3 separate regions of the Homo sapiens genome follow, and all the other regions are reported to be linked to region 3. Evidence: microRNA targets listed by miRTarBase, many of them from high-throughput screens and not tested one by one. Region 3 holds a microRNA gene; each other region holds the end of a gene's coding sequence.
What was found. Region 3 holds the annotated microRNA hsa-miR-32-3p (CAAUUUAGUGUGUGUGAUAUUU, at 1,701-1,722, opposite strand). A microRNA usually pairs through its seed, bases 2 to 8, with sites in the 3' UTR of a target mRNA and lowers its output. Matches are read on the target gene's strand: a 7mer-m8 pairs with bases 2 to 8, a 7mer-A1 pairs with bases 2 to 7 and ends in A, and an 8mer does both.

Region 1: miRTarBase lists PPARGC1A as a target of hsa-miR-32-3p. Seed matches in the 3' UTR shown: 7mer-A1 at 839-845, 7mer-m8 at 1,495-1,501, 7mer-A1 at 2,208-2,214, 7mer-m8 at 2,394-2,400, 7mer-m8 at 2,506-2,512 and 7mer-A1 at 2,971-2,977.
Region 2: the mRNA of DAZAP2 is a reported target of hsa-miR-32-3p. Seed matches in the 3' UTR shown: 8mer at 1,906-1,913 and 7mer-m8 at 1,652-1,658.

Annotation. Positions count from the first base shown.
Region 1 is chr4:23,793,132-23,796,131 of GRCh38, reverse strand. It overlaps PPARGC1A (PPARG coactivator 1 alpha), which reads left to right. Exons shown (of 13, transcript NM_013261.5): 13 at 207-3,000. The coding sequence ends at 310. Among named protein-coding and RNA genes, the nearest start is that of PPARGC1A-AS1, 26 kb to the right of the region's middle.
Region 2 is chr12:51,242,268-51,245,267 of GRCh38, reverse strand. DAZAP2 (DAZ associated protein 2) reads right to left here. Exons shown (of 4, transcript NM_014764.4): 4 at 1,335-2,938. The coding sequence ends at 2,810. SMAGP (small cell adhesion glycoprotein) reads left to right here. Exons shown (of 4, transcript NM_001031628.2): 4 at 1-710. Among named protein-coding and RNA genes, the nearest start is that of DAZAP2, 4.9 kb to the right of the region's middle.
Region 3 is chr9:109,044,531-109,047,681 of GRCh38, forward strand. It overlaps MIR32 (microRNA 32), which reads right to left and starts at 1,768; the gene lies at 1,699-1,768. The region is part of intron 14 of TMEM245 (transmembrane protein 245); the gene reads right to left.

The DNA of each region.
Region 1 (3,000 bases), not on the chromosome of region 3:
GAGTCAACAGGTGCGTGTTTTTGAAAGCTCACTACTCCCCATCCTCTTCCTATATATCCATATATATCCAATAAAATCTGACTATTGTTTTCTAAAGTATATTGATTGGAAGAGTTGTTATCGAATCCAGTAATCTTGAATTGGAATGATTGAGTTAATGGCCATCAGCAAAGTGTGTATCTAAACTGGCTTGTGTTTTTTTTCAGATTCAAACTCAGATGACTTTGACCCTGCTTCCACCAAGAGCAAGTATGACTCTCTGGATTTTGATAGTTTACTGAAAGAAGCTCAGAGAAGCTTGCGCAGGTAACATGTTCCCTAGCTGAGGATGACAGAGGGATGGCGAATACCTCATGGGACAGCGCGTCCTTCCCTAAAGACTATTGCAAGTCATACTTAGGAATTTCTCCTACTTTACACTCTCTGTACAAAAACAAAACAAAACAACAACAATACAACAAGAACAACAACAACAATAACAACAATGGTTTACATGAACACAGCTGCTGAAGAGGCAAGAGACAGAATGATATCCAGTAAGCACATGTTTATTCATGGGTGTCAGCTTTGCTTTTCCTGGAGTCTCTTGGTGATGGAGTGTGCGTGTGTGCATGTATGTGTGTGTGTATGTATGTGTGTGGTGTGTGTGCTTGGTTTAGGGGAAGTATGTGTGGGTACATGTGAGGACTGGGGGCACCTGACCAGAATGCGCAAGGGCAAACCATTTCAAATGGCAGCAGTTCCATGAAGACACGCTTAAAACCTAGAACTTCAAAATGTTCGTATTCTATTCAAAAGGAAATATATATATATATATATATATATATATATATATATATAAATTAAAAAGGAAAGAAAACTAACAACCAACCAACCAACCAACCAACCACAAACCACCCTAAAATGACAGCCGCTGATGTCTGGGCATCAGCCTTTGTACTCTGTTTTTTTAAGAAAGTGCAGAATCAACTTGAAGCAAGCTTTCTCTCATAACGTAATGATTATATGACAATCCTGAAGAAACCACAGGTTCCATAGAACTAATATCCTGTCTCTCTCTCTCTCTCTCTCTCTCTCTTTTTTTTTTCTTTTTCCTTTTGCCATGGAATCTGGGTGGGAGAGGATACTGCGGGCACCAGAATGCTAAAGTTTCCTAACATTTTGAAGTTTCTGTAGTTCATCCTTAATCCTGACACCCATGTAAATGTCCAAAATGTTGATCTTCCACTGCAAATTTCAAAAGCCTTGTCAATGGTCAAGCGTGCAGCTTGTTCAGCGGTTCTTTCTGAGGAGCGGACACCGGGTTACATTACTAATGAGAGTTGGGTAGAACTCTCTGAGATGTGTTCAGATAGTGTAATTGCTACATTCTCTGATGTAGTTAAGTATTTACAGATGTTAAATGGAGTATTTTTATTTTATGTATATACTATACAACAATGTTCTTTTTTGTTACAGCTATGCACTGTAAATGCAGCCTTCTTTTCAAAACTGCTAAATTTTTCTTAATCAAGAATATTCAAATGTAATTATGAGGTGAAACAATTATTGTACACTAACATATTTAGAAGCTGAACTTACTGCTTATATATATTTGATTGTAAAAACAAAAAGACAGTGTGTGTGTCTGTTGAGTGCAACAAGAGCAAAATGATGCTTTCCGCACATCCATCCCTTAGGTGAGCTTCAATCTAAGCATCTTGTCAAGAAATATCCTAGTCCCCTAAAGGTATTAACCACTTCTGCGATATTTTTCCACATTTTCTTGTCGCTTGTTTTTCTTTGAAGTTTTATACACTGGATTTGTTAGGGGAATGAAATTTTCTCATCTAAAATTTTTCTAGAAGATATCATGATTTTATGTAAAGTCTCTCAATGGGTAACCATTAAGAAATGTTTTTATTTTCTCTATCAACAGTAGTTTTGAAACTAGAAGTCAAAAATCTTTTTAAAATGCTGTTTTGTTTTAATTTTTGTGATTTTAATTTGATACAAAATGCTGAGGTAATAATTATAGTATGATTTTTACAATAATTAATGTGTGTCTGAAGACTATCTTTGAAGCCAGTATTTCTTTCCCTTGGCAGAGTATGACGATGGTATTTATCTGTATTTTTTACAGTTATGCATCCTGTATAAATACTGATATTTCATTCCTTTGTTTACTAAAGAGACATATTTATCAGTTGCAGATAGCCTATTTATTATAAATTATGAGATGATGAAAATAATAAAGCCAGTGGAAATTTTCTACCTAGGATGCATGACAATTGTCAGGTTGGAGTGTAAGTGCTTCATTTGGGAAATTCAGCTTTTGCAGAAGCAGTGTTTCTACTTGCACTAGCATGGCCTCTGACGTGACCATGGTGTTGTTCTTGATGACATTGCTTCTGCTAAATTTAATAAAAACTTCAGAAAAACCTCCATTTTGATCATCAGGATTTCATCTGAGTGTGGAGTCCCTGGAATGGAATTCAGTAACATTTGGAGTGTGTATTCAAGTTTCTAAATTGAGATTCGATTACTGTTTGGCTGACATGACTTTTCTGGAAGACATGATACACCTACTACTCAATTGTTCTTTTCCTTTCTCTCGCCCAACACGATCTTGTAAGATGGATTTCACCCCCAGGCCAATGCAGCTAATTTTGATAGCTGCATTCATTTATCACCAGCATATTGTGTTCTGAGTGAATCCACTGTTTGTCCTGTCGGATGCTTGCTTGATTTTTTGGCTTCTTATTTCTAAGTAGATAGAAAGCAATAAAAATACTATGAAATGAAAGAACTTGTTCACAGGTTCTGCGTTACAACAGTAACACATCTTTAATCCGCCTAATTCTTGTTGTTCTGTAGGTTAAATGCAGGTATTTTAACTGTGTGAACGCCAAACTAAAGTTTACAGTCTTTCTTTCTGAATTTTGAGTATCTTCTGTTGTAGAATAATAATAAAAAGACTATTAAGAGCAATAAATTATTTTTAAGAAATCGAGATTTAGT
Region 2 (3,000 bases), not on the chromosome of region 3:
GCCTTTACATATGTTCTCTTCCAAGCAATAAGAACCCTAGGAAAGTTCTAGAAGTTTGCAGAACTATCTCAGGGATTTGAGACAAAGATGGTGCAGGAAAGCTTGTTCCAGGGGAACATCATTAGAAACATACCCTGGGAGGGCCGGGTTCGGTGGCTCACGCCTGTGATCCCAGCACTTTGGGAGGCCGAGGCAGGCGGATCACAAGGTTAGGAGATCGAGACCATCCTGGCTAACACGGTGAAACCCCGTCTCTACTAAAAATATATAAAAAAAATAGCTGGGCGTGGTGGCGGGCGCCCATAGTCCCAGCTGCTTGGGAGGCTGAGGCAGGAGAATGGCTTGAACCCAGGAGGCGGAGCTTGCAGTGAGCTGAGATTGCACCACTATACTCCAGCCTGGGCAACAGAGTGAGACTCCGTCTCAAAAAAAAAAAAAAAAAAAAAAGTACCCTGGGAGATGAGTTGGTTCAAGCCTCCATCCTGGCAAGGGCCAGAATTTCCCAGAATCCCTTCTACATATATACAGAAGGAACCAGAAAAAATCAACCTACCACCTTTCCCAGTGTATCCTCAGAATCAAGCCAAGAAGCTTCTTGGATTTTAGTCTCAAGATAAGTTGTGTTTAAAAGGCACATTTTGGTATAAATTATTAGCTCATCAGATATTGTTCACTTTGGAATTAAAGCTAGATCTCCTTTGAAGTCTTAATGTATTGCCTCTGTTGTCCAAGCTCAAACCCAACCAAGTTAAGATCAAGAGCTGAGGAATCTGGCTGGGTGCAGTGACTCACTGCCTGTTATCCCAATACTTTGGGAGGCTGAGGCAGACAGATCACTTGAGGTCAGGAGTTTGAGACCAGCGTGGCCAACGCAGTGAAGCCGTCTCTACTAAAAGTACAGAAATGAACCAGGTGTTGTAGCAGGTGCCTGTAATCCCAGCTACTCAGGAGGCTGAGACAGGAGAATCACTTGAACCCGGGAGGTGGAGGTTGCAGTGAGCAGACACTGCCACTGCACTCCAGCCCGGGTGACAGAGGGAGACCCTGTCTCAAAAAATAAATAAAAGAGCTGAGGAATCTATCTTGGCAACCTAGATTCTATGAGTTTTCAGTATTTCTCCACATAGAACATTGGAGAAACTAAAGGTCATCCTCAACGTATACAAATTGCTATACCAGAACCTTTTCTTCAAGCCAAACTTTAGAGCAAGTTAGGAGAATCAATAGTTCCCTCATTTCTAAGTTTAGGTCCGAAATTCCAAAATTTGTAAGAGGTTGGAGTAAAATGATGAAAAGTTGAACATCTGGAATGGAATTCATGAAATGATCAAGTCTTAGGCTTGTACTCCTGCCTTTATTTCAAAGCGTCATCAAAGGAAACAGAGCAGCAGCAGCACCTAGCTGAATTCTAGATGGGATATAAATAAAATATATATAGAAGAAATCTAAAAACAAGCTAAGTAAAGAATCCTTGCAGTGAGGTGTAATGCAACTTCATCACTTTATTCAAATCTTCAAAATAGTCTTTATTCTACATTTTTAGTATAAAAATTCCACAAGTTAAGTGCACCACAGTGTAGAGAGAGACATACAACGCTGAACTTCCATAACAGTCAATGGTACAGTCAAACATCACATGTACAGAACACACAATTTAGATGAACTGAAATTATAAGATAAAATAAAATAAAATCCAATTTCAGAAAACAAAAATCAAAACATTAAGGATCCCTGAAATATTCTTAAACCCTAATGAGATTTCACTGGACTCAAGTCATTTTGTAGTGAGACATTCACAATATGACCCTATTAACCCAGTCTAGGAATTCTGGGGAGCCGAATGAGTGGCCGCATCAGACACTCTGACAAAAAATGGTAACCAGTTTTTGATCTGAAAACTCCTCTTAATTTAGCTCTGAACACATCAATCAAGCTTTTGAAATGCATCCTCCTCCTTGCCCCTCATATTTTAAACCAACTGTTGTTCACAGTACAGTTTGCACGACATCTTTGTTCAAACATAGCTCAGTTTTTCTGGCACCAAAGCAAATTTGGGTTAGGTTCGTGTATGCAGAGACAACCTATGAGGAGGGCCCATAAGGCACCCTCCACTTTTGCCTGAGGAGATACGAAAGCAGAAGTAATGGCATCTGTACTTGGGGCACAGAGAGGGTTTCAGAGGATCCTTGTGAAACACTAGTTAAAAGATGACGAGTGGGGAGAAGTGCGAGGAAAGAAGGAAATTAGTCTGACTGGCTTTCTGTCCTGCACCATTGATTCAATGGAGACTGGCGGGAGGAAATGGAAGACTAGGGTTGGAGATGGGATGGGTGGGGCAAGGGATGGAAAGGAAAAGGCAGACAACTAATGCGTTCCATTTATAACAAGTAATATATATCAAAGACTTAAAGGAGATTAAAGACCAATCAGAATAATTTGGCAACTTTAATTCTTAGGAAGATCAAAGTTCCCTCCAAACCTAATTTGATGTTTTATTACTAAAAGCAAAGACCAGTATGGTACAGTATTACTCCAGAGAAATTAAAGGAAAATCCTTAGGGCGGCTTCACCCACATTCATTTTATGAATGGATACCTCCCCTACCTCAAAATGCTTTAGGGAGGTACTGCTACCATTACATGGTTCCTTATTAAATTTGAAAAGTGCCTGAAAGTTTGGGCACCAGAAAGACACCCCAACAACATGTGTCTAAACTGCAACTTCAGGTTAATATGACTAAAGCAGTTACATTGTGAGAAGTGCTGAAGGTATGTGATGTCTTTCCCGGCACAGAGGTGGCCTTGGTTCCTCACCAGATGGTGTAGCCACCATCTGAACCACCCATGAAGAAGTTCCCCTTCCGCTGAGTTACGAGGACGTTGGCTCCCTGCATGACTGCAAGCTGAGCAGCATTGGGAGGGCATCCAGGAGGTGGAGGCTGAAAGGAAATGACATGATAGAATGGGCACAGGGCAGCTAATATAAGCGAAGGGGACATAG
Region 3 (3,151 bases):
TAGCCTCACTGCAATATGGTATGTCTCAAGTAGAAAGTGAGCTGGTGGGAGAGACCAGTCAGCTTTTAGAGACACAGTATATACAATAACCAGTGGGAAAAGTACTCGCCAGCTCCCTTGACTGCTCTCTACATATTTATGGGGTACATAATAATGTTTCAATACATATAATGTATAGTAATCAGATAGGGGTAATTGGCATATCCATCATCTTGATCATTTATCATTTTGGTTTTTTTTTTTTTTTTTGAGATAGAGTCTCACTGTCGCCCAGGCTGCAGTACAGTGGCATGACCACAGCTCACTGCAACCTCCACCACCTGGGTTCAAGAGATTCTCCCACCTGAGCCTCCCGAGTAGCTAGGACTACAGGTGCATGCCACCAAGCCCAGCTAATTTTTGTATTTTTAGTGGAGATGGGGTTTCTCCATGTTGGCCAGGCTGGTCTTGAACTCCTGACCTCAGGTGATCTGCCCGCCTTGGCCTCCCAAAGTGCTGGGATTTGAGGCGTGAGCCACCGTACCTGGCCTCATTTCTTTTGTTGGGAGCATTCTGTATCTTCCTTCTAGCTACTTGAAATGATATAATTTATTGTTGAACTACAGTCATTCTACAGTGCTGTAGAACATTAGAACTTATGCCTTCTAAGTAATTTTTGTATCCTTTAACAAATCTCTCTCTACCCACCCCTTCCCAGCCCCAACCTCCCTTGAGAGGTCACATCTTCCCTTTCTTGATTAATCTGCCCTGGAAACCCAGCTCCACAGGGTGTCATATAGCAACCTGGCTGACATTAGATTTCCAGCATGAGGGGAACGGCCGAGCTGCTGAAGGGCACAGGGGATGAGCTGCTTACGTGGAATTCTTCCATTCTCACCCTCCAAAACAGTGGTGAAACACAGAAACATACAATGACAGCATCACAATAGATCATCTGGAGGCTATGGTAGTAGTAAATATTAATTCAATATTTTCATACAGTAATACATGGTTTTGTGTCCTTGACAATGCCTAGTGATTGTGGATGCTTACTCTAATGCTAACTAAAAAAATAACAAGGGGTTGTTTCAATTACATAGGCAAATAGTAAACGTGTATTTCAAAACTAGTTCCATTATTAGCCCACTAAAATGAATTTAGCAGTTTTCGAAGCATCACAATGAGAAAGTAAAAGACACATTTTTAAGGTAATTTACCTTGGAAACTTAAGTTTATGAGATGAATCTTTCATCAGGTAGGTTAAGCATACCTTTACTGTCTTGATTATTATTTAAGAACTCCAGTTAATTTAATTTCCCCAAATATGCATAAGAGATTTCTGCTTCTCTATTCCAGTGTTGGGAGAGATTTCTTCAAATAAATGAAAATACATTTTCTTACAGCTTTACATTCTTCCTTATACATTTAAATATTGTTTATACTCTTAAATCAATGAGAATTTGTAATAAATATTTCATTTGCTCAAAGTAAAAAATGGAAACACTGATTTACTAAATGATCATTGCTGACTTTTTTTAATCCAAATACTTTTAATTCTCCAAAATTGGAAGGTACCGATGGGAAGCATGTTCACTTTCCAAATGAGAATCGCATGGCATACACACTGTCTTATCTAATTCATCAGGACACCCACCCACTGGCACTGAAAAGCTGTAATCCCAGCAAGCAAGAGCCATACCCGTGTGCATGCACTCATGTGAAAATATCACACACACTAAATTGCATTGAGGCCGTGACAACATGCAACTTAGTAATGTGCAATATCTCCACCAGAGCAAGCAGAATGGGAGCATCAGGGAAGAAGGGTGTGATGTATACATTCAGGAGACAACATGCTGCTGAAGAGAGGAAAATGGTCTGGGGATAAAGGATGCATGCCACTGACTCAAAACTTCATGAAATGAAAACCCAATTGCAAATGTATTCAACTGAGAAGAATACTTATTCAGAATCAAAATAATGAGTAAGGTTCAAAACTTCAATGAGATAGTGATCATAAAGAAACCACATACTTCAGAAGGCAAAGCTTCACGAACAGACACTATCACTGTCTGGTCATGCAATTAACCCCCAATTTCAATTCCATTTTTGACTTATTCACAGATCATATAAATGAATGTAATGATTTCCACTTAGCTGCAACATAGATGATGATTAATGACTGATGCTTATAAAAGTTGGTATCACTGATATTTGTAGGCTAAACTGCACTTTGAGGACATTACAATATTTTCATAGTCATTCATAAATTATAAATAACCACTTATTTTTCCCTCAAAATCTTTTTCCATGAAGAAACATATTGCCTCTTCAACACAAACCTTCAGGATGAAAAATCCAACAGGAGCTCTTAGAAAGAGAACTCACTACCATCTTCTCCACAGGAGAAAGCTCTTCAGAGGAATCTCTGTAAAATCTGTACATTTTAAGTCTTGAATTTGAGCCAGTAAAGAAACAGCCCTAGGAACTTAAACTGCAAAAAAAACACCTTGAATTATAGCCTTAAAATTACATAACTTGATATAGCTTTGGTTAGAAAAATGTCTCAGGCCATAACCCATTCTTTAGTCTGTACCATATTTATCAGACTCATAAAAATCTATCAATTCTGAGAACCATTAGATTATAGTTCTGGTACCAAAGGTTGTTAAAATTTTTTCTGTATTTAAAATAAGGTGATAATAAAACAAATGGTTTTTAAATGCCAGTATACTATGGAACCAAGACATAAGCTACTGTTATAATACATAATTAGTGTATGCACTCCCAAGAAGGGAAGTCGAATCTAATTTGTAAAAGACTGATTTCCTCATATCGCTGTAGATGACAGCACTCTTTGTAATCTCAAATTCTCTCCTGAGCCAAAGACCTGAATTTCTAAATGCCACCCTCTTATGTCCACAAATATAAGTCATGATCTTCCCTAACCAGCTCCTCTTGAAAGAAGGCATCATGGTGTAACAGAGTATGTGCTTTCAATCAGCTGAACCTAGGTGTGACTAACAGCTTTACTTACCACTGACTGGCAAACACAACAGCTAGGAATTAAGTTTAAAACAAAAAAGGTGGCATATTTGGTATGAAAAAAGGTGACAGACATTTAGAGGATGGTCTGCTGTAAGAAAGCAGAACAAGAGAAAATTCAAAAGCT